7 linked regions of the Homo sapiens genome follow. The protein of the gene in region 2 interacts with the protein of the main gene of each other region in a pairwise test. Each region holds a gene or a part of one and is shown on either strand. Other genes may lie near its edges.

Region 1 (3,073 bases), on a different chromosome or scaffold from region 2:
TGCAGGTGTGGACGGAGAATGCAGACGGGTCAGGCGCTGTGAACTTCCTGACAGGCATGGGGGGCTTCCTGCAGGCGGTGGTCTTCGGGTGCACGGGGTTCAGGTAAGTGCAGAGGCTGGCAGAGGGCAGCCCATGCCCCCACCTGCCACCTCACAAGCCTCTCCTCCCACAGGGTCACCCGAGCGGGTGTGACCTTTGACCCTGTGTGTCTGTCGGGGATCTCCAGAGTGAGCGTCTCCGGCATCTTCTACCAGGGGAACAAGCTCAACTTCTCTTTTTCCGAGGACTCCGTGACCGTGGAGGTCACAGCTCGAGCAGGGCCCTGGGCTCCTCACCTGGAGGCTGAGCTGTGGCCATCCCAGTCCCGGCTCTCCCTGTTGCCAGGTAGAACAGCCCCCAACAGCCCAGGTGCCTGCGACCCCAGGCTGCCCCTCACCCCCAGGCTGCCTCTCTCCCTGCAGGACACAAGGTCTCCTTTCCCCGCTCGGCTGGCCGGATACAAATGTCACCCCCGAAGCTGCCTGGAAGTTCCAGCTCCGAGTTCCCTGGGAGGACTTTTTCAGATGTTAGGGACCCGCTCCAGAGCCCCCTCTGGGTCACCCTGGGTTCCTCCAGCCCCACCGAGTCACTCACTGTGGACCCTGCCTCTGAATAATCAGGAACGGTGGCTTCAGAGACGTCTCTTGGGCCTTCCCTCTGGCCACGTCTGCACCCACCCCTCCTGGGCACCCTCCTAGCCTGCCATCCCTCACCTGCAGCCAGGCTCTCAGGGAAGGTCCATGCTGCTTGGCCTGAGTTCAAGGCTTTCTGCCTGTAGCCTGGACTCCCGTGGACCCCCGTGGGCAGGTGGCTTCCCCGTGGCATCTCCACACCGCCTCTGCCTGCCCCTGTGGACTGATGCTATCGCGCACCGTCCCACGACCCCACCCCGAGCTCCTGAAGCCGGGGTCTGAGCCTGCATCACCTCTGGCCTCTCATCCCCCACTCTCCTGAGAGCAGTGGTCACAGCGGCCGGCCGCTCTGCTGAGAAGGCAGAGAGGCAGGCTCAGGCCTCAGCGTGGACAGCAGGGATAAGGGGCACGAAGGACGGGGACTCGGCCCCTTCAGAATTCCTCAGGACTCTCAGGTGCAGCTTTGCCAAAAAGGAACTTTTCATGTCATGCAGTTGAGGGGACTTAGTCTCAATCCCAGGCTCCTCTTGACTCTGGGCAGCTTTAATCAGGTTGGGCAGCCTCTGCTACAGCGTGGGGTGGGATGGCTCTCTTCCCTCAGCCACGCCGCTTGTGAGGACAGAGGTGGGGGAGTGGGAAGTGGGAAGTCACCAGAGAACAGGAGAGGGATTTGAGGGCGAGACCCCAGCGCTCTCCACGGACCAGCCAGAGGGACTGGAGCCAGGTGTGCATGGGTTCAAGGCCCTGGCCCTGCCCAGCCTTTGTCTTGGGAGCTCAGCCCCAGGGTTCGGTCGTCAGCAGTTTCCCAAGAACAAGATGTGATGGCATCTGCTGCTGAAACCCTGATGAGGACCAGGCCCCCTGCACCGCTGTCAGCCTGAGGAATTAAAGCTTTGGTGCTGGGGAGAGCATTATTCCTCTGAGGAGCCGCTGTGCTTCCTTCTGAAGTGAGGGCCGTGCCCCGGGTCCCATTTCTCCTTTCACTTGAGTCGGGAAGCACAGCAACTTTAAGGCTCGCGCCCAGCAACATGGCTCCCCTCGCATCTGCATCTCCCTCCTGCTCTGGTGTTGCCGCTGCACCCTGTCCTCGGAGGACAGCAGAGGTTTGGACGGAGACTCAGGGAGGGAGGGAAGGAGGCAAGGACGCCTGTGGAAACATCTTTCAGGCAGCTCTAGGGTCTGGGGGCCAGGATGCCTGGGTCTCCCAAGGCCTGTCTGCTGTCTCTGCCACCCTCAGCGGCTGCCAGAAGCAGCGTGTGGGGGAGGCATGTGCTGCAGCACACCTGCGGCCGAGACCAGCACTCAGAGGTCGGCTCCCCTGACAGGAACCGTGTAGGGTGCAGAAGGCTGAGACCTGTGGACACTGCGTGTTTTATGGCAGCTTGCTTGCTGGGGCTCATGGCCACAGTGGAGAGGGGCCGTGGGTCAGGGCAGCCCAGTGTGCAGTCCAGTGCCGGGCAGGAGTCTTGCAGGGGCTCATGACCACAGTGGAGAGGGGCTGTGGGTCAGGGGCAGCCTGGCGTGCAGTCCAGTGCCGGGCAGGAGTCTCACAGGGGCTCGTGGCCACAGTGGAGAGGGGCTGTGGGTCAGGGGGCAGCCCGGCATGCAGTCCAGTGCCGGGCAGGAGTCTCGCAGAATGCAGCCTGACGCCTCCACGTGGCTCCCCCGGCCCCTACAGGCTCCCTCAGCTGCAGAGCTGGGTCCCATCCGACGCTGTCGCTGGGCAGCGAGAGGCAGAGGCAGGTTCCCCGAGGGAAGCATGGGCCCCTTCTCCCGGCCACGGTTGCCCCAGCAGGAGTTCATCTTTGCAGCCCCAGAGCCAGGGTGATGTGGGCACAGGTGTCAAGTCAGGGTGGTCGGTAGCCTTGCGCCCGCAGGAGAGATATGGCCTGAAGCCTGCTGCACGTGCGTGCCACACGCGTGTGGGGCCACCTCTGCACATCCTGAGGTGACCCTTTTGGGGGGGTCGTGATGGTCAGTGCACGTGTGCCGGCAGGGCTGGTCAGGGTTCATCGCCTGCCCAGGAGCCTGAGCCTGAGGCAGGGAGGTGCTGGTGACCGTTCCCCCAAGGTGGCTCACCCACAGCACCGGGAATGGACCAGGTCGTCCCTGCCCCTCAGTAAGCCTGGGGACTGGCAGACCGTCTCTTTTCTGGGGACACGTATCCAGCCACACATGGGCTGACCCCCTCCCAGTCTCTGCACCCGACACAGTTTGATCCCTTCTCAGGCCAATCCTGAGGCTCAGGGCTGGCACACTGTCTCTATCCCAAGGCAAGCACAGGTGGGCACACTGCCCTTGTCCTTGGTCCACTGTGGGACTGGTCCTGTCTGTCTCCAGCGCCCAGCATGGCCTCCACACACCTCTGCCTCCAGGGCTGGCTGGGCCTGCCCTCAGAGTC
Region 2 (4,332 bases):
ACTGCTTGTAGAGGAATGTTTTCCCTATTTCTCTATAAATATTTCATGATAAGTTTCCTTCCATCTGCATTGATTCAATGGGTAATAAGTGCTTTCAAGAGAACTGCCTGGCATAGCTGCAAAATAAAATAGAGCACATGACATAATCTCTTGCCAGGTCTAAAATTTTAGCAACTGTATGGTATCAGGTACTTGCAAAAGAAATGATTTCCACAAGCAAGTTACACTTGAAGTAACAGTCCCATGAAGAATTATCCTTTTAGGATGAAAAGGGAGCCACCAGGCCTAGAAGAGTAAACAGGAGGCCTGTAGAACGCCTCATTTCTGACTCCTGACACAGTGCCAGGGCAAGGGCACATCTATGAATGCTCCATGAACGAACAATGCAAGCAAGGAAGCTCCCTGAGGGCAGAAATGGTCTTCTTCACCCCTCTATTTTCAGTACTCAACCCACAGCACAGGTGCACTGAATTAATAATCGTTCTACCCAATGCAATTAAAAGGATTAACAATGCATGTTATAAATTTTATTCTCATGTTCTCTTCCCCAACTTACTCTTCAAACAATTCATGATTTGATTCACATAGACTTAGAATTTTAGAAATATCCCTCATCTAGCTAGCACCACAAAAGCTGAAGAGAACCGGAGCTCCTGCCTCCAGTTCCCGGCCTAGAGTTACTTGTCACAGCTGAGCCCCCTTTTAACATGAGTAATAACAAGGATCAGGTACATAAAATTTGAAACAGGATGGAAAATAGTAGGAATATAAGATGTAGACAAAACAATCTGTCCTAACGAATGAATCCACTTTTCACTCCATTAACTATCATTTCTTTCAGTCTTAAACCCAGAGTTACCCTTTCCCTCCTCCCCCACTCAAAAAAAAGGATACGGCAGAAGAGTTCCACACTGAACGGACAGAATCACCCAAGAAGGCTGAAAAAGAAAAGATTAAATCAAAAAGTATTCTCAATTTACAAGTGGCATATTATTTTACTAGTGTTGTTCTTAGAAATTAAAAGTCTCTGTTACAACCTATTTTAAAACATCCAGATTACAAGTATGAATATTCAAATAGAAATATTATAGTCAAAGATTAGTTACTAATACCCAAGATGAAAAATCCAATTACAGAATGAAGCACTACCATATTTTTTTAAAATTATGTATAAACATTTAAGTTCCAGGTTTACACACTTATTACTGCTGACCCCCACATTTAGGACAGGGGAACTGCCACCCATCCTGCCCCACCACCGCCGACACCTCATCCAGGGCATAGTCAGCCTCTCATACGCTCCCTTCTTGAATCCCAAATTCAGTCAAGTCTAAATTCATGAGGTGTTTGTTTGTTTTAGTGAAGTCAAGCAGATACAATGTTTGTAAGCCTGAAAATATTTTTATAAATTCTAAAAACTGAGATTAATTATAAAACAGATTAATTACTACCTTTCTGGGTAATTTATATTTTTGAAAAATTATCTTGTTTCTATGTTTAATTTTTATAATTATACAAATCATTCTCCTGATAGCTCTACTTCAGAAAATTACTATCAAAATGTAGTAATGCCCCCATTACTACATTCTGGAAGGCAGCTGACTTCCAGAAACTTCAGCCAACTGAAACAGACATATATACTCACTACCCACCCATCAATTCATTCATCAAATATTTATTGAGAATCTATTTTATGCAGAGATGGTGCAAGGCGCTGGGGATGTAACAATGAAAACGAGAAACGCAGTCTTTGCTCTCCTGCAAGTCATATTCCAAGCTAATGATCTTCAAGCTATTTTTGTCATGTACACCTTAAATAAATTTCAGACAATGAAATGCCCCCCTTATCATTTTTTAGATGACATCTAAAATTTTTCAGCATAACTCTAAATAAGTATATTTTCTGTGAGAAGAGGAATATTAAACATTTTATAAAATAAAATAAAGATTGGCAGCTGTGCCTGGGATAATTACTTCATTATGATTTGACATTTACCAAAGGTTTTAACTAAGTTACTGGATTAGTTATCTGAAATCTGAAAGAAGGCACTTAATTTTTCGATCTATGTGCCTTATCCAACATATCTTCACATTTTTTGATAGTCCTAGAAAAATTCCAGTTAAATTTAAAAAAATGGGCCAGCATCAGGAATCGGTATTGGCCTTGACACTTCTGAATTCAGAACACCTTCATGTAGACCAAGCTCTCCTTTCAACAGCAACACCCAGAAACCCCTCTCTCCTCATGATGCCATGACTGAGCACTAAGGGAACAGTCCCTAAAACCAGTCTTTCTAATTGTCCTTTTGTCTGCTGTCCACGAGAATTTTCAGAGCCTGGGGCAATGCACTACAAGATTAGGATGGGTGAAGGTCTGATTCTTCCTGTGTAAAGTGGGAGGGGCCACTGTGACCACAGGTGTGTTCTCAGGCAGCTTTAGGAAGGGCCAGTCTGGAAATGTTATCTATCACCTTACAACCATCCACACAGCATACACGCTGAATATCTCCCCCCAGGGAGCTTGGGTAGGGTATCCCAGTTTAAAGACTGCTGGCTATCATAAAGTCCCATCCAAGCACAGTAGAATCACTGAGGCCCTACTTCAGATAAGTTTAGATAAAATAATGCAAAATTAGGATGTAGGCCACAGTACAAAGCAGAAATGGAGAACTACAAAAGCAAAGTGATAAGGAACTATTTATCCTAAAGGCAAAGAACAATATATAAAAATAAGCTGGCTGATCGCGATGGCTCATGCCTGTAATCTCAGCACTTTGGGAGGCCAAGGCGGGCGGATCACTTGAGGTGACAGGTTCGAGACCAGCCTGGCCAACATGGTGAAACCCCGTCTCTACTAAAAACACAAAAGTTAGCCGGGCGTGGTGGCACACGCCTGTAGTCCCAGCTACTAGGGAGGCTGAGAGAGGAGAATCGCTTGAACCCTGAGGCAGAGGGTGCAGTGAGTCGAGATCACACCATTGCACTCCAGCCTGGGAGATTCTGTCTGAAAAAAAATTAAATAAAATAAGCCCACTACAAGTCAGCAAAATTAACATTTCCAATGATGCCCAAAGGCCACTGAGAAAAATATCTCAATTTAAAAAATAATTTTAAAAGTTTTGGTGCCCAAAGAAGCAAGTTTTAAACATTTATAAGATTCAAATATGTAAATGATAGATAAACTGTCACTGTGTATAAAGATGCCTTATTTTTAAAATGCATTGTCAAACTTCCTATCAAGGTAAAGGCCAAGGGATATGCCTCTAGGGAACCAGGTCTCAGCCTTCAGTCATATGAATTCAGACTCAACTATTAGCAGCAGGATCCAAAATAAGACAGGCCCATAAGGTTCAAACTAAGAATATCAGGATCTACTTGAAATATCTTAGAGTGAAGGCAAACTGTTGAGTCAGCTCCGAAGTACTCTACCACCTTGTAATGTAACACAATAGTCCCTGGACAATACAGGTGCTGTCAAAAATTACAAGCAGGCTGGAATGCTACTGGGTACAGATGAAATATGTCTGTCACTCATTTTAAAATACTATAGCCAGAGGGGGAAAAAGTTGGGTTTGAATACAGTAAACTACCTTGGCAAAATGGTGATAATCCTAGATGCTAACTGCTAATTGTATAAGTAATGGGTATTTCTACTTAGCCTTACATACTGACTTTCCCAGGAATATGAATACTGTGTAAAATGAAGGAAGACTGCTTTGTTTAGCTCAGGAATTGATCACCATTCTGAAATGTCACCTCACAGCGGCGACCCCACTTGTGGGGTATGATATCAATCTGTAATTGCAGCAGCTACCGGCAGTGACTCTACATATAGCAGCAGCCATGCCCAAGTGTTTACACATTGAAATATATATTTATTATTTACTTGCCTTTTATTTCGCCTTCACATTTCAGTTTGGGCAATTTATATATACATATTTTAAAGGTTGGCTTACGTATCGATTCATTTCTGGATAATAAGGGGAGTGCTACAAAGTACTTATTACAAAAAGGTGGTTTGGGGTCAGGCAGGTTTAAGAACTACTTCTGGTAGTTGGCCTGGCAACAATCACCTAGGCCCCAAGGATGTGTTAGAAAGATCACCCTTTCACATAACATCTGCATAAGATATGCAAAGCCGCTTTACTGAGACAATAGCTCCAGGCTATTGTCTGAGAGAAAGAAAGTTTGTAGGAAGGAGAAGGAAGAGACAGAGATACTGTCCCTAAAGCAGTACAAGGAAGCAAGCCAGAGACAAAAACATGTTCCAAAGAAGAGGGTGCCCCAGCTCAGGACCTCATCCAAGGCAGTTTCCGACCCTGGGTACCAGGG
Region 3 (4,332 bases), on a different chromosome or scaffold from region 2:
TGTGCCTAGTTGAAAGTCTCACCTTTACAGGATCATTTGTAATGCTGGTGTACATGCAGGGAACTCACAAGCTGTGTCAGGTATGCAGGACAAGGAATGTCTGCTCTGGGGGGCACAGGCCAACTATATGGAGGGAGGGTCCCAAATTAGCAAACCCTTCATTTAAAGCAAACCCTTGTCAAGCCTACCAGAGCAGCTGATACGTGTGCATAACAGTGAGGCATTGTGTCCTGGATCGTCTGGGAGCCCAGTGTCAAGTCTGCTGGAATGCAGGAAGTAGAACAGAATCGCCACAGGACTGTTCTGGGGCCAGCTTCCCTTAACTCTGTAGCCTGGCAGTCTGACCCAAAGTTGCCCTCACCCAAAGGTTCTGGCTCTTCCCTCCCTCACTTTTACTTTCCCTTCCCCCATAAGTTGGAGGATAAAATGGGTATCAATGCTAATATTTCCAGGGAGAACATGAAACCAGAGGTTTCTTTCTTTCTCTGTAATCTGCTATGAAAGAAAATAACAAATGAAAATAAATGTGTACTACACTTTGAAATATTTTAACTAAAGCCTTTATTCTATACAACTGTGAAATACAGATTTTTACCCTTTTGGCATTGCAGACTGTCGAATTTTCTGGAAACTGTATTACGGTTTGACTGGAGGGGAAAGAAATACAATCATGCTGGGGGTCAGATCTATGACAGGAGGGGAATGCAGCCACCCAAGGCTTAGCACACAGGGCAAAATGACCCAGCAAAACCCATTTCTTTGCTCAAAGGCCCCTCGGGCAAACACAACTGAGGGCTGGTAAATAATTTTTTTTTTCTTTGCCATTAATTCACAACTATTGCTAAAAAATGTGCACCAAAAGCACACTGTTGTATCCAACAGATAGAAAGGACTTTTAAAAAAAAAGAAGCTGGTTGCTCTCTGAGGAAGGGAGAAAGACCATTTCAACTTATTAGAAATGTGGCCACGTCTTTGCTCACTTCTTCAAAGTGCAGGTGGCAATGGCCTGTCCAGTTTCCAAAAGAAGCTGACTAGCAGTGAGGGAACCCTGTCTCTGCAGTTGTGCGATCAGAGTATCTTAAATAGTAAGGTATGGCCTTAGGCCTATCAGCTGCCCCCAGCCGAACCTGTGAAGATGTAGAAAAGAAAAAACGTTCCCTGCCTCCCTCCCTAGTCCCTGCTATGGTGGAGGCAGGCCACACACAAGCTAGGGAGGCAACTGGACTGGAATCAACTGCCCTCTGAAGGCACTTGTGCTTCTGGCTTCATACAGGAGGCTTGTCTTACAGTTTTATGGGGGTGGACCACTGATTTACTCTGAATACAAATGACCTTGGGGAGAATCCAAAGTATTTTCTGCCAAAAGTTGAAGTGTTTATCCCCAATAAGTTACACTCTATACAAGATCCAAATGATTCTATGAAAGTGTTAGATTGTTAGAACAGTGAAAAGAAGATCTGGATACAGGTACAACAAAAACCTGCATATAAAACTTTGGAAAAACAAATATGTATACTTCCAGGATATGAATATCAAATTAACTCACTATGATCTCCCTTTATTCTGACACCATAAATTTTAGGTAACATTTGAATGAAACTGAAATTTCATCATGGTCTTAAATTTTGATGGTGTCATGCTGCTCATCCAGAGCAAGAACCTGTGGTCTCAGCTCGCTTTGTGTAAATAAAACTGGACACAGTGGAGGAAGGAGTGAAACTGCTGCACCTCCCTGGGGTTGCCACAAAGCCAGGACATCATGGGAGGTGCAGCATCGCTAGGCATGGGCTGCACAAACTCCGGCCCAACAGTCCAAGTGCTATGATCCAGCACCTGGAATTTCAACAGATCTTCCTACAAGAACACATCTGAGATGCAATATTAACAACAAGCCCAACATTAATCTTTTATTATGAAATGGGCTGGTTCTCAAATTGTGCAACAGCAAATTCCCATTAAAAATAACTGTCTTAAACGGTGAAAACAATTTGATTACTTTATATGACAAACTTGGAAAAAGCCTTCATATCTACTGCATGAATGGAATGTACTGTTTTAGAAAAGCTACAGAGTGTGTGGGCTTAAAGTTGAAACAGAGACAGTTGTGGCCCGACTGAGGTGTCTCTAACAAGTGTTAATGGGTAGATAAGGTCCTTTGAAACAAAAGGAGGAAGCAAAGTCTGCACTGGCCTGTTGTCAGTCTTCTGTACATCTTGAAAGACATAGTCTGCTTGGGGCTCTTCTGCTCTTGCACTCTGCTTCCCTGGGGACAGCTTAATCTACACATGGAGACTGGTTTCTATATTACATCTCGATTAGTCACTTCAATTGAAAGATAATCTCGGTCCATACCAATCAGCCGTTAGAAGTCTTGCTCCCGTTGGGGATCAGTGGGCTTCCTAGGACTACTCTTGGGGCCATAGAGGAAGGTCGTAAATGAATATCCAGGAGCATTAGCCCAGCCTTCACGTGGACTTCTGACGGTAATGGAGGGTGAGGTCTCCACCGCTCTTCCATATGAAGTGTTTCACTGTTCGAAGGTCCATATTTGGATCCAAAACCTGAATAGCCAAAATTAAATTTAAAAATTTCAAAGTCTCTAATATCTAAAACCTTATCATTAACTCAGGGACTCTCATCAGGTGATCCAGCTTGCTCACTCCTCCCCTATGCCTGGTATCCAATTCTTGCTGTCACGGCTTCCATGCATGCGGGAATGAAATTGAGCTTAGTGAGATGTACATCTTTTGTGACTATGCCAGAAACACCAGGCCATCTTTCAGCCATTCCTCTGAGGATACGTTTTGAGTGCATCTTGATTTAAAAAACAGTTCTGCCATTTCTCCGCACACCTTCACTCTAAATCATAAACATGGCACATGCTTTTTGCAAATCAAGAAGACCATGTGTCTTTTTTCTTGTCAGAAAAAAAAGCTACCAGCACATCCACATTTGTCTATGTATCCCTTCTCTGAAAATCTCCCCAGCAGTAAAGAGGAGCTTTAGGGTGGGCTTTAGGTAGGAGAGGCCCAGGGCTCCTTAGAGCCCCTCTAAAAGTAGAAGCCCCCCACCCAAAGGCATGTAACTCTTTATGAGCACCAGCACTGGAAAAATTGGGGCTGTAGTCCTCAAGTCCACTTACCTGGTCCTGGCACAAAAGTTCAATTTTCTCCTCTGCCAACACAGCAATATCTTCTTCTTTTTCCTGTTCTCCTGGTTTTTCATTATTAGAAGAGCTAGTGGTTTGAGACTCATTATCCAAGTTGATAATTTTTTCATAAACATGTTCCATAACTTTTCGGACTTGGAGCATGTCACTAGCAGAGAGTCTATCTCTGTAAAAAAGCAATGGCATATTGTGACATCAGGGAAATCACTAGATATTATTTATTCCATATTATTTTTCTTTGATGCAAACATTTTAAAGATGAAAAATAAACCAATAAATGTTTTTAGTCATTACCTTAATCCATTTTTAGAGCTGCGGAAAGATTTTCTACAGTGTCCTTCTAAGACACAGTTTATGTACAACTAAATGAGATTAATATGTGTTCTTAAAACTTGACATATACAGGCCAGGTGTGGTGGCTCACGCCTATAATCTCAGCACTTTGGGAGGCCAAGGCAGGTGGATCACTTCAGATCAGGAGTTCAAGACCAGCCTGGCTAACCAACATGGTGAAATCCCGTCTCTACTAAAATACAAAAAATTAGCTGGGCATGGTGGTGCACGCCTGTAATTCCAGCTACTCAGGATGCAGAGGCTGCAGTGAGCCAAGATACGCCACTGCACTCTAGCCTGGGCGACAGAGTGAGACTCCATCTCAGAAAAACAAACAAAAACATTTACATATACATACATAGTAGCCTTCTGGGTTTTATTCCCTTGAATACTTTCCCAGAACCTGGGCAAACTAAATAATTCTGGAAAGGCAGGCAGCTCCCAGTGCTTACCAGGGTCCGACACTCTTAGTGCTCAATTTTCCCTGGGCTCTCCTCCCCACTGCCATGCCTTCAGCTAGCACCTGTGAGCAGACAATGCCTGAGTCTAGACCTTGAGTCTCAACCTTCTCTTCTAAACCACAAACCCAACAGCTGGTTGGGTATCTTCAGTTGGATGTCCTACAGGCACCTCAAACTCTGTATGTCCCAAACTAGACTCATCAACACCCTACTTCTGTATCTCTGATAACAGTCAATAACTATTATACCAAAAAACTAAGGCCTACGCTCTGAAAATCATTTGAACTTCAGTTGTTAAATCTATCTGAACTGATGTCTAGGACTCACTTTAAAATAATTGTGTGTGTGTGTGTGTGTGTGTGTGTGTGT
Region 4 (4,332 bases), on a different chromosome or scaffold from region 2:
GCTGAGGAGTGCAGGCGCACGGCACCAGGACTGGCAGGCAGCTCCACCTGCAGTCCCCAGTGCAGGATCCACTGGGTGAAGCCAGCTGGACTCCTGAGTCTGGTGGGGACGTGGAGAACCTTTATGTCTAGCCCAGGGATTGTAAGTACACCAATCGGCACTCTCTATCTAGCTCAAGGTTTGTAAACACCAATCAGCACCCTGTGTCTAGCTCAGGGTCTGTGAATGCACCAATCAACACTCTGTATCTAGATACTCTGGTGGGGCCGTAGAGAACCTTTATGTCTAGCTCAGGGATTGTAAATACACCAATCGGCACTCTGTATCTAGCTCAAGGTTTGTAAACGCACCAATCAGCACCCTGTGTCTAGCTCAGGGTTTGTGAATGCACCAATCGACACTCTGTATCTAGCTACTCTGGTGGGGCCTTGGAGAACCTTTGTGTCCACACTCTGTATCTATCTAATCTGGTGGGGACATGGAGAACCTTTATGTCTAGCTCAGGGATTGTAAACGCACCAATCAGCACCCTGTCAAAACAGACTACTCCGCTCTACCAATCAGCAGGATGTGGGTGGGGCCAGATAAGACAATAAAAGCAGGCTGTTCGAGCCAGCAGTGGCAACCCGCTCAAGTCCCCTTCCACACTGTGGAAGCTTTGTTTTTCCTCTTTGCAATAAATTTTGCCACTGCTCACTCTTTGGGTCCACACTGCTTTTATGAGCTGTAACACTCACCTCGAAGGTCTGCAGCTTCACTCCTGAAGCCAGCAAGACCACGAGCCCACCGGGAGGAACAAACAACTCCAGACGTGCTGCCTTAAGAGCTGTAACACTCACCATGAAGGTCTGCAGCTTCACTCCTGAGCCAGCGAGACCACGAACCCACCAGAAGGAAGAAACTCCGAACACATCCGAACGTCAGAAGGAGCAAACTCCAGACGTGCCACCTTAGGAGCTGTAACTCACCGTGAGGGTCCGCGGCTTCATTCTTAAAGTCAGTGAGACCAAGAACCCACCAATTCCAGACACACCATCACTCCCAACACATCCTCCCTCCCCACATTTTTACCAAACCTCATCTCTCCCAACTTCACTTAAGGGCAAAGAATTAAAGCAGGGTGGGTGGAATAGCAGACATTCCCTCCCTTATTCTTCGCTAAGATAATCTTAGCTAGATTAGTGGCAGCAATGTACCCAGCCCCAGGTGATAAACCACTAATGGCACACTGGTTCTCAAGGGGTAGTAGTATCCCCCTTCCACTGAGAGTATTCGTAGATGTAGAGGGGACATTTTTATTTATTTCAATACCTGGGAGGCATTAGTATTTTAGGAGGCAGGATCAGGGATGCTAGATGTCCTGCAATGCATGGGACAATTCTGATCTCCCTTACCATAAATTGTATCAGCCTCCTTTGGCCTGTGGGACAGAAGCGGAAATCTGCTGGAAAACTTGCAAAAGTGTTCCTTTCTTAATCAAAGGAACAAATGTCACCACTGCCACCACTTTCTCCTCCTTCCTGATGTAAACACAGGCATAACACCTGGAGCAGTAGCATGAGGGGACATGTAAAACATCCTAAGAATGACACAGCAGAGTGCCTAGATATGTGATACTTATTATTAAATTATATTAGGAGCAGAATGAACACCTTTTCAGATATGTTGTTTTCTTAAAGTTACTCTTAATTGATTTGCTGTTACTTGCAGCTGAAAGCTTTCCTAACTGATATGAGGCATAAATTAGAAGTCGTAAAGAAACATGACAGAGGGGGATTGTGTTAAATGCTGCTCTTTAGATACCATATCTGTTTTTTATTCTATGACATCCATAATACCCATTTTCTCTCTGGGTACTTGTTGAATTCATTATCTTAAGATTTACAGCTACTAGATAATGTATCTGTACTTTTTTAAACCTTCTGCCCATAAACATCTGGGCTGTGTCCCATATACCCTCTCCTCTATAGAATAAAGCTGATTAAAAAGAAGTGGATTATTTTCGATTTCCTACATCATAGTCATGTCATCTGTGAATAGTTTTATTTCTTAATATGCCTTTCCTTTTTTAAAAAAATTTGTTTGCCTTATGGCACTGATTAGAACCTACAGTACAAAGCTAAATAGAAATCGTAACATTGGAGATCTTTGTCCTGGTCCCAATCTTGAGGGGAAGGCATTCAATATTCACCATTGGGTACAATGGGTCAATTGGATCATCTGTAAGTTTTTGTGTGTGTACCCATTCCTAGATTTAGGAAGTTCCCTTGTATTCCTCACTTGCCTATAGGCTTTTTTTTTTTTTTTTTTTTGAGACATGGTTTTGCACTGTCACCTAGGCTGAAGTGCAGTGGTGTGATCACAGCTTCAGCCTCCTGAATATCCACGACTACAGGTGTGTGCCACCATGCCCAGCTAATTTTTAAAAAATGTTCTGTAGAGACAAGGTCTCACTGTGTTGCTGAGGCTGGTCTCAAACTCGTGGCCTCAAGTGATCCTCCCACCTCAGCCTCCCAAAGCACTTGGATTGCAGGCATGAACCACCATGCCCCTGCTTATAAACTTCTTTAAAAGCATTTCTTGTAGAGTAGGCAATGCATTCTTCTCAGTTTTTGTCTGCCTGAGAATGTCTTTATTTTGCATTCGTTTTTTAAAGGATATATTCCCTGGGTATATATTAATTCTAGGCTGGCATTCTAGGTCACTTTATGTCATTCCATTGTCTTTTGGCTTCTATGGTTTCTATTAAGAAATCACCTATTTGTCTTATTATTGTTCCCCTGAAAAGTAAAGTGCCCTTTTACCCCTCCGCCTGCTCTCAAGATTTTGTCTTTTTCAGCAGTTTAGCTGTGATGTACCTGTGTGTCATTTTCTTTGTATTTATCCTGCCATGGGTTCATTAGACTTCTTGAACCTGTAAACTTGTCTTTCAGAGTGGGAAAATTCTCAGCCATTTCAAATACTACTACTTTTCCACTCTTTTCCTGTGACTGCAATGACATAGACCTTTTTTTTTTTTAGACAGTCTTGCTCTGTCACCTAGGCTTTAGTGCAGTGGTGCAATCTTGGGTCACTGAAACCTCTGCCTCCCAGGTTCAAGCGGTTCTCGTGCCTCAGCCTCCTGAGTAGCTGAGACTACAGGTGGACACAGACCTTTTGACAATGTTCCATATACATCTCTTACATTGTTTTCTATTTTTCTCTTTGCCTTAATTTGGTTGTTGTCTGTTGGCTCGTTTTTTAGTTTCCTAATTCTGTCTTCTAATAAAGCCATATAATTTTATAGTTTGCAGTTATGGAATAAATGTTTCTTATTTTGTAGTTTCTAACTCTGTTGAAGTTCTGCATCTTTTCATCTATTTTCCATCTTTTCAAAATATCAATCATGGTTATTTTCTATCCACCTCATGTAGTAATTCCAGTATCAGGATATTCTATGGGTCTGTTTCTAGTGAGTGTGTTGTTTTAGCCTTTATTAGTCACTTCTTCCTGCTTCTTTGAATGTCTAGTAGTTTTTAACTGTATGCTGGAAACTGTAAATGACACGTTGTAAAGGCTCTGATTGTTAATTTTCTTCTAAATGGTACTGATTTTGTTCTAATGGCAAATCAATTTGATCCTCTTGAGATTTGATTCTAAATTCTGTTGAAGTGGGCATACTTCAGCTTTGTTCTTACTCCTAGCACATTCAGAGTGTATGACCTTTCTTCCTAGTGTATGATAGTGCACTACGTATACCTCAAAGTACACTTTATTCATAGTTTATGACCTTTCTGAGGTCTCAACTGAATTGCCACGGTTTCACAAAAATCTCTTATTTTTGGCTGGGCCCAACCTGCAAAGCCTCTCCCAACACTAAACGGTTCTGATCTCTCGACTTAGCTTTCAGTCTCCCAATAGCTCTTTTCTGCTAAACCTCCTCAAGCTTTACTCCACACATGAGGAGCTTAGGAGTTGGACAAAAACCCAAGGGAAATTTTTGTGCAAACTTTTGGAGGTCCTTCTCTGAAAATGCCTCCTTTCTGGTACTGTCACTCACATCCCAGCCACACTGAAGACTCAAATTCTGCTCCTCTGTCACCTCTCCCTAGATTTCACTCACTGCTTGGGCTATATTTCCCTGCACAAGAATTTGAAAGTGTCCTCAGGAAGAAAGCCTCTGTGAATATGGGCTGAATTTCTAGAAGTCCTTTCTCCCAAGAATCTAGGTGCTGGACTTCGTTTTATATAATTTATACAGCTTTTATGTCTGTTTATGATAGGAGGATAAGTCCAATACTGGCTTCTCTATCATAGCTGAAATGAAAAATCTCTCCCTCTCTGCTGAATTTC
Region 5 (3,655 bases), on a different chromosome or scaffold from region 2:
CTCTTGCAGTAAATGACCATGTCAGAGAGCTCCTGTGCTAGCCTGAGCTTGTCCTCCTGGGGAACACGGGGAGGCCCGGGTTAGATTCAGTGGTTGGGGTAGGGTAGGCACTGAGAAAGCCAGAAACCCAGGCGCAGAGAGACAGAGGGAGACAGACAGAGAGAGCGGGGCAGAGGGTCTGAGTGGCAGCCACAGAGAACTGAGACAAGGCAGACCTCCCACGGGTGAGGGGATGGGGAAGGCCCGGGCTGCCCCACCCCACAGCTCCCCCTCAAACCTTGGGCTTGTGCTGCACACGGCTCCTCACTGCCTCATCCTCCATCTCAGCAGCCTCGTCTTCGTCTGACACCACAGTGGCCTCAGGGCCACCCTCCCCTCCAGGGGGCAGGAGCCCCCCGAGCTTCTTCCCCTTCAGCAGGATCTTCCCCTTCAGTTGCTAGGTGGGGAGGGGCAACTGGTCAAGACACACCTAGCGCCCCGGCTAGGCTCCCCACCCTCCCCCAGGGATCCCCCATCCCCACCACACACCTCAGGGGAGGGCAGGCTGTTGGTGACCCCATCCAGTGGTCGGTTCAACAGCATGGGGCCCAGGATGGCATGCAGGTGCCGCGCCATCACGCGCTGCTGCTCCAGTGTGCAGTGGTTCTCCAGGGATAGGATGACAGGGTAGGGGGACGCCTGGAGGCCCAAGGGCACATTAGGAGTGGTGGGCCACCCCTAGCATCCCACTCCTCACCTGCCAGGGGCACTCCCACCTTGAAGGCATAGTCCCGGATGGCCCTGAGCACATCGCAGAAGAGGATCTTGGAAGTGAAAGTATAGCCGTGGTAGATGATTGGTTCCTGGTTGGGCCCGTCCCAGCAGTCAAGCTCCAGGCATCGGCAGCCTTTGCACAGTGCCCTGCGGGGAGGGTGGTGGCTAGGACCCTCCAGGTCCTGTCCCGGGTCCCACCCAGACTCCCGACCCAAGGCTCCCTGAGCAGCACCGGATGTAGGCTTCAGTGCTGCTGGGCCCGGCTAGCTGGTCCTCCAGCAGGTAGGTGTTGTGTGAAGAGGACACCAGGTAGTGGCTAAGTGGCTGGCCCATGTCCTGGTAGACACGGCGGTGTGCCAGGCTGAAGGCGCTGCCGTCAGCCGACAGTAAGTACATGAGGAAGCCGTCCTTGGTCATCTGCCGCTGCGCCTTGGCTGGGAGGGAGGAGGCCACTGCCCGTCAGAGCCAGCCTCCAGCAGGCGCTCCTGGCTGCCCACCCATCTGGACAGAGGAGCCCTCTGAACCCGCTTGCCTGCCTGTCCTGAGCCAGTCTTCCAGAGCTCTTGGAATTAGGATAAGTCTGAGGCTCTCGACCAGACTGTGGCTACTCCAGAGTGGGGCCCTGTCTCCTCCTCCTCCCCTGTCTGCACACTCTAAGACCCCTGAGGACAGGGTGTCATCTCCCCGTTCTCTGTACCTCCAGACTGGAGCCCCCTCCAGGGCAGGGACCCATCTTCTCTGCTCTATCACATCTCAAAGCTGGGCCAAGAATGAGTAAAAAAAAAAGAAGCAGGAGTAGCATCTGCTTTTCAGCCATCTCTCTTGTTTCTTGAAGAAGGGGTCCTCAAAGCCCCCTGAAGGAGGTGCCAAGAGGGAAACAGGACCAGAGAAGGGTAGGGATGCCAGAGCCCTGTCTCTCATCTGCCGGCTTTCATAGGACCAGAAAGTGTGGAGCAGGGCCCCGGGGCTGGCTGAGGCAGCCCCTTCCCTCCGGTTCCCTTCTTTCTGGCTGCAGTCTCCCCAGGGGTCTCCCAGCCCAGTGCGGCCCTGCGACTGCAGGTAGCAGGCCCTGGTCAGGCTCTCACCAGTCTCGCTGGGCTCGTAGCGCTCAATGAGGGAGAGGGCCAGCGCAGGCCCTGCCGCCTCCTCCCGCTGCTGGTGCTGCAGGAACGTCACTAACTGATCCACCGACAGAGTCTCCCCTGAGCCCGCGGCCTCGGCGAAGGTGCGGTCGATCTCCACCCGCTGGGTCAGCATCTTGTAGAAGGCCTCAATCTCCTCGTCCTCCAGGGAGTCTGTCTGGGAGTGGTCACACTCCTGCAGAGCCAGGACAGCCGAGTGGGCTCAGAGCAGGCCTTGGGCCGGGGTCAAGGGCCCCATGGACAGGCAGCCCCAGCCCCCACTTCCTGCCTCACCCTGAAGATCTTCCGGGCATAGCTGTCGTCCACCTGGATGTTGAGCTCCTTCAGGAAGTTCTGCAGCTCCTTGAAGCTCATCTTGTTGTCCTTGTTTTTGTCAGCTTTTCGCAAGCAGGAGTGAATCCAGCTGGGCAAGAAGTAAGGAAAGAACCCAGGAACCCTGGAACCTACCAAGGTCCCAGCCAGAGCCATGGATGGCTCCAGCTGAAGCCACCTATAGCCACAGCTCCCTGCAGGCCTGACTTACTACACATCCATGTTTCAGTGGCCTCTTCAGAGGAAAATGTTAAGGGGTCTTTTTCTATTTGCTGGTTTTCAAACCTTTCAAAATTTTTAAAACATTTCTTTTCTTACTACAAAAGGGCCCACTGTAGACAATTTAGAAAATGCAGAAAAGTAAACAATCAAACAAATCTCCCGTAGTCTATCACCTAGGGATAAATACTATCAACATTCCAAAGTATATCCTTCTGGTTTTCCTTTTCTTTTTTTTTTTTTTTTGACAAGATCTCACTCTGTCGCCCAGATTAGAGTGCAGTGGCACAATCACAGCTCATTGCAGCCTAGACCTCTCAGGCTCAAGTGATCCTCCCACTACAGGTGTGCACCGCACCACCACGCCTGGCTTTTTTTTTTTTTTTTGGGTAGAGACAGGGTCTCCCTATGTTGCCCAGGCTAGTCTCAAACTCCTAGGCCCAAGCAATCCTCCTGCTTTGACCTCCCAAAGTGCTGGGATTACAGATATGAGCCATCTGGACTGGTTTTCAACATATAATATATAATAATAAATATCCAACACTAAAGAAATGGATATTCCACCTGCTGAATAGCCTTCAGCACACGAATCTCGTGCTTGGCTGGACCATTCTAAACTTGACTTTTTTCACCTGGCTTTCTGTCATAATTATTCTTTTCCACATCTATACCCATATATATACAATTTGGAAAACATATATATGTTAGAATGAAGTTTTTTTTTTTTTTTTTGGAGACGGAGTCTTGCTCTGTTGCCCAGGCTAGAGTACACTGGCGCGATCTCGGCTCACTGCAACCTCTGCCCTCTGGATTCAAGCAATTCTCCTGCCCTAGCCTCCTGAGGAGCTGGGATTACAGGCGTATGCTACCATGCCCAGCTAATTTTTGTATTTTTAGTTGAGACGGGGTTTCAGCATGTTGGCTATGCTGGTCTTGAACTCCTCACCTCAAGTGATCCACCCGCCTTGGCCTCCCAAAGTGCGGGGATTACACGTGTGAGCCACGGCACCCGGCCTATAATGAAGTTTTAAAGATCTACCTACCTCCTCCAGAAGCTTCTGATATTTGCATTTTCCTCCTAATATTTTTTTCTGCAATTTATTTATTTATTTGGTTTTTTGAGACAGGGTCTCGCTCTGTTGCCCAGGCTTGAGTGCAGTGGCATGATTATGGCCCACTGCAGCCTCAAACAATCTTCCCACCTCAGTCTGCTAAGTAGCTGGAACTAC
Region 6 (4,332 bases), on a different chromosome or scaffold from region 2:
TTATGCTATCCAGCCCTCCTCCCTTAGTTTATGGGTGAGGAAGGTGAGACTTGGAGGGCATTCGCAGCCCAGTCTGCGGTCCCAAAGCTGGTGAGCGGCACTCTGGCCCGGTGCGGTCTCCTAACTCGCAGTGTCTATTGGGCACCCCTCTGGCTGTGCTGCACAGTCACCCTGCTGCCGGCGGACCAGCCCTCTCCCATGCACCCTCTCTCCTTGTCCGCTCGAGGCTGCAGGTGGCACTGCCTCCTTCCCAGAATTCTGCAGGGCAGCAGCCAGACAGGTGTTAGCCCTGGAGCTCTGAGCCAGACCCCCGAGCGAGCGTCCAGCCAGTCCACTCGCGTCAAGTCTTCTGAGGGTTGCCGCCCAGAAATTCAACAGAGAAGGGCAGGCAGATCAGAGTGAGGATGACTTTGGTTCACATTCCTGCCTTCCTCCTGAGCAGCTGTCTGAACCCGGGGAAGTTAGCTCTCACCAGGTCTTTCTTAGCCACAGTTTCTCTTTGGAAAAACTGAGAAAGTAAAGTGCTTTGCCTTGCAACAATCTTCACTTGGTTGTGAGGATTAAGATAAAGTTAATATGCGTAAAGTACCTGGCTTATGATAGGCACCAAGTAAGCATTTGCTGTCACTTAGTGGTTGTAGGGCCAGCAGCCATGCTGATAGCAGTGGAGGCAGCAGCCAAGACCCTCATGGCAATAGCGTGGTGGTTGTAGTTGTTAATACAGCACATCCACCCTCAACAACCTGTTCTTTGTAGCATTGATTTATTTTATTTATTTATTTATTTTTGAGATGGAGTCTTGCTCTGTCACCCAGACTGGAGTGCAGTGGCACCATCCTGGCTCACTGCAGCCTCCACCTCCCAGGTTCAAGTGATTCTCCCACCTCAGCCTCCCAAGTAGCTGGGACTACAGACATGAGCCACCACTCCTGGCTAATTTTTGCATTTGTAGTAGAGATGGGGTTTCACCATGTTGGCCAGGCTGGTCTTGAACTCCTGACCTGAAGTGACCCACCCGCCTCAGCCTCCCACGGTGCCGGGACTACAGGTGTGAGCCACCGCGCCTGGCTTGCATTGATTTTTTTTTTTTTAATCGCAACAATGACAACAAAGCCCCTGGAGTGTCGCCATGTTTCTTGTGTGTAATTTAGTTTAGTATGTAAGTCAGCACAATTCATAACTGACTTCCAATCCCCGCCCATTGCAAAGAAAAAAATGTTCTTTTAAGTGTTTTCTAAGTACAACTTGGGTTTTATTACAAAGTGGATTAAGAAGGAATTATGATTTGAGGGTTACGTTTTTTGGGATTTATTTGTTTTTAGCTACTGGCACCTGTTGCTCACAGTCCTGCGGGTCGAGCAGGTCCTGCTGCGCAGGCTTTCGCTGGTGTCTGCTGGGGGATCGGGGCTCTTACAGGGCTGCAGTCCCATGGCAGCTGGGACTAGAGTCACCCAGAGGCTCAGCTGGAACAATTTGGCCTCTTTCCCTCTCCATGCGTGTCAGAGCCTGAGAGCTAAGCATTGATTAAGCTGTTTTATGCTCATTTTATTTTCTCTTTCAAAGCTCTGTGTTGCCATTATTAAAATTAATTTTTCTGTCCTCAGGGAATAAGATGAAAAGAAACTGACATTTATAGGAAATCAAGTATTGCCATTATTGTCCTCTTTATAATTTTGTCTTAACTATATTTGTTCAAGTTTCAATGTTTTTAATTCAGTTTCTGAGCAAGGTCGTTTTTGGCTACTGTCAGCTGGAGACAGTGAGTGGAGTGGCCTCTGTGGCTATGTGAGAGCCACTGTGAAGAAAGTCTCGGGATGTGTGGCTGTCAGAAAACAAGTAACGCGGAATGAGCAGGCCTTGCATTTTAGACCTTAGGGATCCTGTGCGATGTGGGACTGTTGGAATATGGAGCAGCCTGAGAGTGGAGAGGCGAGGGCTCAGCAGGAATGCGTGCTCCCAGGCTCACCGTGCGGTTTTCTTTATAGGACAATACATGGCTTGATATACAACGCCCTGAAGCTCTTCATGGAGATGAACCAAAAGCTATTTGATGACTGTACACAACAGTTCAAAGCAGAGAAACTAAAGTGAGTTGTTCCTTTCACAAGTTACTGTTTCCAGGATTTTTTTCTTAATCCTAAGTAAACCTCTTCCACTGTTTTGTCCTAAAACGGTATTCTTCACTCGAAAGCAAAACCAAGCCTTTCATACTTGGAAAGCAAATTAAAACTGTGTTATAATAACGTATTTTGAAAGAACAGGTGTTTAAAGGTAGCTATTCTCCCCCCTTGTATTGCCAGATTAATCATCTTTGCAAAAAGTGCTTATGTAAGCAAGAATTTAACATTCAGAATTTTTTCTTTTCTTGGGCTATAATGGGCTTAAAGGCTATAATGTGTAGTCCATTTTCATGTTTATAAGGCAGGGATTTGAATTATATCCTATAAGGTTTATCCCAGAGAGCAAGAATCTTCATTTCAATGTAGCTTTATTCTGATTTAATGAACTCAGCGATGTGGGTGTTCTCTGGAATCTAGTCTGTCCTTTGCAAAATCAGGGTCCTGCCCTCGTGCCTTTGAGCCCACATGTGTCCAGGGATGATCTAAGTGACAAAGTACTTCGTCCCTAGGCTGTGCAAGTAATAATGTGATTAAATAGTTGTTGGAGGTCACTTCTTCCAAGTTGAGTATGGACTATTGGCAGATTTTATTTTTTGCTTGTCACTTAAAACTGGCTAAGGTAGATAAGCTTTGCACGAATGTAATTCAAAATACACTGTATACATATGTGTGTATCTATGTGTGTGTGTGTGTGTGTATATATATGAAACAACTGCCATTTAGTCATTCCTTAGACAAATATGTGAATATTTACCTTATACACCAGGCCCTGTTTTAGATTCTGGCAATATAGCAATGAATAAAACCCACAAAAATCCTTGCCCCTGGGCCGGGTGCGGTGGCTCACGCCTGTAATCCCAGCACTTTGGGAGGCCAAGGCGGGTGGATCACAAGGTCAGGAGATTGAGACCATGCTGGCTAACACGGTGAAACCCCATCTCTACTAAAAAATACCAAAAAAGGGCCAGGCGTGGTGGCTCATGCCTGTAATCCCAGCGCTTTGGGAGGCCGATGCAGGCAGATCACGAGGTCAGGAGATCGAGACCATCCTGGCTAACACAATGAAACCCCGTCTCTACTAAAAATACAAAAAAAAAGGCCGGGCATGGTGGCTCATGCCTGTAATCCCAGCACTTTGGGAGGCCAAAGCAGGCAGATCACCTGAGGTCAGGAGTTCGAGACAAGCCTGGCGAACACAGTGAAACCCCGTCTCTACTGAAAATACAAAAAATTAGCCGGGCGTGGTGGCAGGCGCCTGTGGTCCCAGCTACTCAGAGTCTGAGGCAGGAGAATGGTGTGAACCTGGGAGGCGGAGCTTGCAGTGAGCTGAGCTCACACCACTGCACTCCAGCCTGGGAGACAGAGAGAGACTCCGTCTCAAAAAAAAAAAAAATACAAAAAAAAATCAGCCGGGTGTGGTGGCGGGTGCCTGTAGTCCCAGCTACTCGGGCTGAGGCAGGAGGATGGCGTGAACCTGGAGGCGGAGCTTGCAGTGAGCCAAGATCACGCCACTGCACTCCAGCCTGGGCGACAGAGCGAGACTCCGTCTCAAAAAAAAAATCCTTGCCCTTTTGGGGTTTATATTCTGGGTAGTGTGGGGAAATAAAAGAACACAAAATACACCTAAGTGAACTATAGAGCATGAGAGATGACAAGTCAGTCAGGAAAGGGCCGGGGAGACAGACCAGCCATTCCTCTAGAGCTGCCAGCTGCATGGTCTGTTCTCATCTCAGCTCTCAGTGCAGTTCGCAGGTAGGAAGCATGCAAGCAGCAGGGCCTTCTGATGGCAGATCCTCCTCTCGTGGAATCCCACAGCTTTCCCAACAGGACCTTAAAGGTTGTGTAGTACATTTTCTGGGTTGAAAAACTTGGATCCTGGCCGGGCGCAGTGGCTCACACCTGTAATCCCAGCACTTTGGGAGGTTATGGCTGGTGGATCATTTGAGGTCAGGAGTTCGAGACCAGCCTGGCCAATATTGTGAAACCCCATCTCTACTAAAAGTACGAAAATTAGCCGGGCGGTAGTAGCACGCACCTGTAATCCCAGCTACTCGGGAGGTTGAGGCAGGAGAATTGCTTGAGCTCGGGAGGTGGAGGTTGCAGTGAGCCAAGATCCTGCTACTGCACTCCAGTCTGGGCGACAGAGTGAGGCCCTGTCTCAAAAAAAAAAAAAAACTTGGATCTGAGTTAAGCGATTGAAAGTCATGTGACT
Region 7 (4,332 bases), on a different chromosome or scaffold from region 2:
AACCCAAAAAACCTCCAATTAAATGCTGTTTATAAGAAACATGTGAAACATAAAGATATATAAAGATTGAAACTAAAAAGATGGTAAACAACCTATCATGTCAACATATGTAAAAGAAAACTAAAGTAGTGATATTAATATCAGACGAAATAGACTAGGGCAAGAGACACATTTAAGGGACCTAAAATAAGTGGAAAGATATAACATGTTCATGCACTGGAAGACAATATTATAAAGTTACCAATTTCTTACAAACTAATCTTTATATTCAGTGTAATCCCAATCAAACTGTTAAATTTGACAAGCTGATTCTGAAATTTATATAGAATTGTCAAGGACTAACAAAGTATGAGTATTCCAAATATATAAAAAATAACTATGAATCAACAGAAAAATAGGCAAGAGACCTGAATAGCCATGTCATAAGAGAAAATCCAAATGGTCAATAAACATATTAAAAAGGTGTTCAATTTCTTTAATAATCAAGGAGCTACACATAAAAAGTACAACTTCTAAACTGGTAAAAAACGTAAGTCTGATAATTCTATGTGTTGGTACGGATGTGATTAATGGACGCCCTCATACACAGCAGGAATGTAAACTGGTTCATTGACTTTGGAAAACAGTTTGACATCATCTGTTAAAACTGAAGATACGCATTTTCTGTAAGTCAGAAATTTCATTCCCAGGTATACACTCTAAAGAAATTTGCGTGTGTGAACTGGGAGACAAACAGAAGAATGTTCTGCACTGTTTGCAATAGGCCCATGCGGAAATAACCCATCGAGAGCAAATAAACTGTGATACATTCATACAATGGGATAGTACATTACAATTAAAGGGGAAAGACATGGATGAGTCTCACCAGTGTAATGCTGAGCAAAAGAAACAAAAACAAAGCTAAACAGTATTCTTTAGGAAGACATGTGAAGAAGGTAAAAGAAGAGCAAAGAAATTATTATCATGAAAGTCAAAATGGTGGTTTGCTTTTGGAAGGTGTAAAGTTTCAACCAGGAAGGACCACGCAAGGGAAGGAGGCAGGGTTCTGTGATCCTGTAATGTTCTATTTCTAGCTGGATGGTAGTTGCATGGGTTTTCACTTAAAAGTATTTAAAATATTTATACATTTTACATACTTTTCTCACTTAAAGGTATTTAAACTATTTATATATTTTACATACTTTTCTGTATGTATGATCTATCTCACAATAAGAAAAAAATGAGAAGGAATAATACTGTGCTTCTCACTCATCTTTCTAAATAACTGGGTTTGGTTCTTTGTACAAATTCTCTAAAATGACTAAAGTGGCTGGGCACATTCTCTTCTTGGAAAGATAGCATTATTTAGTAGAAAAAGCAATAAGACTAGGGATCAGAGGACAGAAGCTCTCTTAATTAAATTCTTAATTTACTTCTCTTAAGATGCTCTCTTAAGCATATTAAGTCTCTCTGAACCCTAACTGCTTATCTATTAAATGCAGATTTAACAACTGCCCTTATCTTGGGATATCTGTGACTATCAAATCATAATATAGTAAATTAAAAGATGTTTAGAAAACAACAAACAAACAAACAGAAAAACAAACACAGCAGTTTAGTTTTAATAATCTGAAATTCAAAGATTTTTAATCCACTGGAGTCATGATGAAGCTGAGAGATAAAAACTACCGTTCCATTTTAAATAGCATTATTTGCAAAATGGTGTTATTTCTATCGGTAATGGGTAAACAAACAGGGTTCTATTTTGAGAAAAAAATAAACATAAAATATTAATTTAACCTAACAGATGGTAAGAGATGGTGTCAAAGATGCACATTAAAAGTCTAAAGAGTGAGATCTGCTCTTCTGTTTACAAAAGAAGACTTAGGAATGTCTTCAGCTCTCCAGGAAGAGAGAAATATATTTCCCAAGTTGCCCATCCAGCCCTACCTCCATTACAGATAACATTCAGCCCCTAAATTTTTCTCCCCAAATTGACTGAAAAATACAAGAATAAAAAAACCAAACCAATGTAATTGGGCTTCTCAATTAGCCTTAGTGCCACTATGGGAGAATGAACAAGCAACTGAGTGGCAAGTTTCACTGACTAAAACAAACATTGAAGTATAGAAGTTTTATGTATTTATTGTGCCACTTATAAAATAACTGCCACAAACATCAACAATGCTTTTAGAAGTTTTTCATATTCAACCACTTAGAAGATGACAAAGACAATATAAAAATGCAAAACATTTTACTATATTATAATGTTATATTATTTTTTCTATATAAAATGTTACAAGTTCTACATACCTGAATATTCTCCCTACTCCAAGTATGTGGTGTTTTATTAGCAAGTAATTTCAGATCTTGAATAGCAAGTCTCTTTACTGCCTTCCTGGGATCATTCTTCAAATACTGCAACAGAAGCTGAATCTATAAAGGAAATAAGTCACTCCATAAACAATACTGTAACTGAAATGATCATTAGAAATGCAGTGTAGTTTAGTGAAACTTATAAAGGGACAGGACTCACTTCAAATCAGAGCCCTGTCACTCACTAGCTATGTGCCCACATTTGGGCCTCTTTCTCCATGTTTGTAAAATACTACCATTTAACTTTAAAGTTTTAGCACAGGCCCTGGCATTTTACAGATACTCAATCCTTTCTTTTTTTTTTTTTATACGGCCAACTTCACACCCAGCCATGTACTCCATAACATCTCATTTTCCTCAAGGGCTCCCAACAATCAGTACTGTGAACAGAGAGAATAAAAAAGCAAGCAAAAGCAAATTAATCTGACCTTTATTAGAGAAAAGAACCTTAATGTCCTCAAGACTTGTGGGCCACTTTCTTATTTCTAATCATATATTTAATATGTAAGTTTACCAAAGATAGGCAGTTTAAAGAAAATTGAAATTACCTGCTTAGGTGTATCAACCAAAGATGACGCTGCAAGCAGAGTGAAAGTGTGCAAAGACACAATCACCATTTTGGTGGACGGATAGGATGTGACCAGCTGTTGTAAAAGCTGACGAGCACTGGAAGCCAAGATTGCATCATGGTGCATGTGCTGTAGAATGGGTATCAATTTTAGCTTCAAGTCTACTGGTGTCGCTAAACCTAGACACAAAAATAATTCTCAAGGTATTTGTGATCACCATCCTTAATAATATTCCAGATTTAAAAGCTGTGACTCATTTAGCAAAATTGCACTTGAAAAACACAGTATACTAATATATTTATAACATTAAAGATTATACTAGAACCAATTGATAAATTCAATATTTTTTCCTAAGTATTTATCTTGACATTAACTTTTCAATGATTATAAAACTACATGCTGATAATAAAAACTGCCTTTAAAAAGCACAGTAGAAAGCAAAGTCATATTTGCTGCCTATTTCCTCTCATTGTCATAGTAAAAAAATTATACATACACATATACATATATATACACAAACACACACACTTGATGGCTACAGTCTGATTATACTTATGATTTTAATTATTTCCTTCAACAACTAAATCATAATCAGGATGTGAATAAACTGTGTGTAGAATGGTTTCGAAGTCCTCTGAACTTTGTGTAGTAAATGCCTTTCTTTATTGCATACACGACTGGATCCATGAAGACTAACCCTAATCCACGTTTTCCTGTCAACAGTGGAGCGAAACCAACAAATCTTTTCTCTATGGCATGGCTTTGTGGTCATGGTGAACACAAATTTCTCAGTCGTAATGTACCACATACATGCCACAAGCTAATTATACTCTGCGTATTGCTGGCTTTTCCATGGTGAAATAATTGTGGGTATGAACGTAAGACAGCATTTCAACGTCCAACAGTTGCCTACGTCAATAAACTCCCTTGCTAGATGGCCTCTACTTGGGTTTGCCAGAGGGAAAAGAATGAGATCAGAGTATTCCCTGCTTTCCTCTCTGCAGGGTCACATCATGCTCATGTTATTACTTTGTTCCTTAAGGTTCTGAATGCACTTGACACTGCTGACCATTCTATCTTTGAAACTCACTCCTAATGGCTTTGGCTCTTCCACTTTTACTGTTTTCTGACCTCTTTCTCTGGCTGTTCCTTCTTAATCTCCTTTGTAGTCTCCTTGTCTGTCTACGCTTTAATTTCTGATATTCCCATAGGTTGGTAATAAATTCTCTTCTCATTCTATGTGTTTTCCCTGAGTGAGCTGATATAATCCCATGGTTTCCATTATCGGCTAAATGTGAAAGGCTGCCACCCATCCGTCCTCCTGCCCCGACGTCAGACGCATGTATCTCATTATCTTCTGGTCATCTGCACTAGGAGGTCTCAGAAGCATTTTGTATTAATAAGGCTC

What was found.
Region 1: the proteins of PAXIP1 (region 2) and PGGHG interact in a two-hybrid assay, tested with the Homo sapiens proteins (one large-scale study listed by BioGRID).
Region 3: the proteins of PAXIP1 (region 2) and WDR48 interact in a two-hybrid assay, tested with the Homo sapiens proteins (one large-scale study listed by BioGRID).
Region 4: the proteins of PAXIP1 (region 2) and CABYR interact in a two-hybrid assay, tested with the Homo sapiens proteins (one large-scale study listed by BioGRID).
Region 5: the proteins of PAXIP1 (region 2) and PLCD1 interact in a two-hybrid assay, tested with the Homo sapiens proteins (one large-scale study listed by BioGRID).
Region 6: the proteins of PAXIP1 (region 2) and PPP2R5C interact in a two-hybrid assay, tested with the Homo sapiens proteins (one large-scale study listed by BioGRID).
Region 7: the proteins of PAXIP1 (region 2) and INTS7 interact in a two-hybrid assay, tested with the Homo sapiens proteins (one large-scale study listed by BioGRID).

The regions. Positions count from the first base shown.
Region 1 is NC_000011.10:294,094-297,166, forward strand, and holds the end of PGGHG (protein-glucosylgalactosylhydroxylysine glucosidase), read left to right. Parts: intron 1-5; coding exon 6-103; intron 104-173; coding exon 174-385; intron 386-462; coding exon 463-656; 3' UTR 657-2,014; downstream 2,015-3,073. UniProt on the Homo sapiens protein: Catalyzes the hydrolysis of glucose from the disaccharide unit linked to hydroxylysine residues of collagen and collagen-like proteins.
Region 2 is NC_000007.14:154,992,832-154,997,163, forward strand, and holds part of PAXIP1 (PAX-interacting protein 1), read right to left. Parts: intron 941-4,332; exon of another isoform or gene 939-940; coding exon 895-938; intron 1-894.
Region 3 is NC_000003.12:39,092,877-39,097,208, reverse strand, and holds the end of WDR48 (WD repeat-containing protein 48), read right to left. Parts: intron 3,336-4,332; coding exon 3,143-3,335; coding exon of another isoform or gene 2,957-3,142; exon of another isoform or gene 2,562-2,956; coding exon 2,466-2,561; 3' UTR 545-2,465; downstream 1-544. UniProt on the Homo sapiens protein: Regulator of deubiquitinating complexes, which acts as a strong activator of USP1, USP12 and USP46. Enhances the USP1-mediated deubiquitination of FANCD2; USP1 being almost inactive by itself.
Region 4 is NC_000018.10:24,145,233-24,149,564, reverse strand, and holds part of CABYR (calcium-binding tyrosine phosphorylation-regulated protein), read right to left. Parts: intron 1-4,332. UniProt on the Homo sapiens protein: May function as a regulator of both motility- and head-associated functions such as capacitation and the acrosome reaction. Isoform 1 binds calcium in vitro. Isoform 2 and isoform 6 probably bind calcium. Isoform 3 and isoform 5 do not bind calcium in vitro.
Region 5 is NC_000003.12:38,009,376-38,013,030, forward strand, and holds part of PLCD1 (1-phosphatidylinositol 4,5-bisphosphate phosphodiesterase delta-1), read right to left. Parts: intron 2,299-3,655; coding exon 2,169-2,298; intron 2,071-2,168; coding exon 1,839-2,070; intron 1,188-1,838; coding exon 986-1,187; intron 901-985; coding exon 756-900; exon of another isoform or gene 679-755; coding exon 529-678; intron 437-528; coding exon 278-436; intron 57-277; coding exon 1-56. UniProt on the Homo sapiens protein: The production of the second messenger molecules diacylglycerol (DAG) and inositol 1,4,5-trisphosphate (IP3) is mediated by activated phosphatidylinositol-specific phospholipase C enzymes. Essential for trophoblast and placental development.
Region 6 is NC_000014.9:101,907,604-101,911,935, forward strand, and holds part of PPP2R5C (serine/threonine-protein phosphatase 2A 56 kDa regulatory subunit gamma isoform), read left to right. Parts: intron 1-1,985; coding exon 1,986-2,087; intron 2,088-4,332.
Region 7 is NC_000001.11:212,004,347-212,008,678, forward strand, and holds part of INTS7 (integrator complex subunit 7), read right to left. Parts: intron 3,104-4,332; coding exon 2,904-3,103; intron 2,416-2,903; coding exon 2,293-2,415; intron 1-2,292. UniProt on the Homo sapiens protein: Component of the integrator complex, a multiprotein complex that terminates RNA polymerase II (Pol II) transcription in the promoter-proximal region of genes.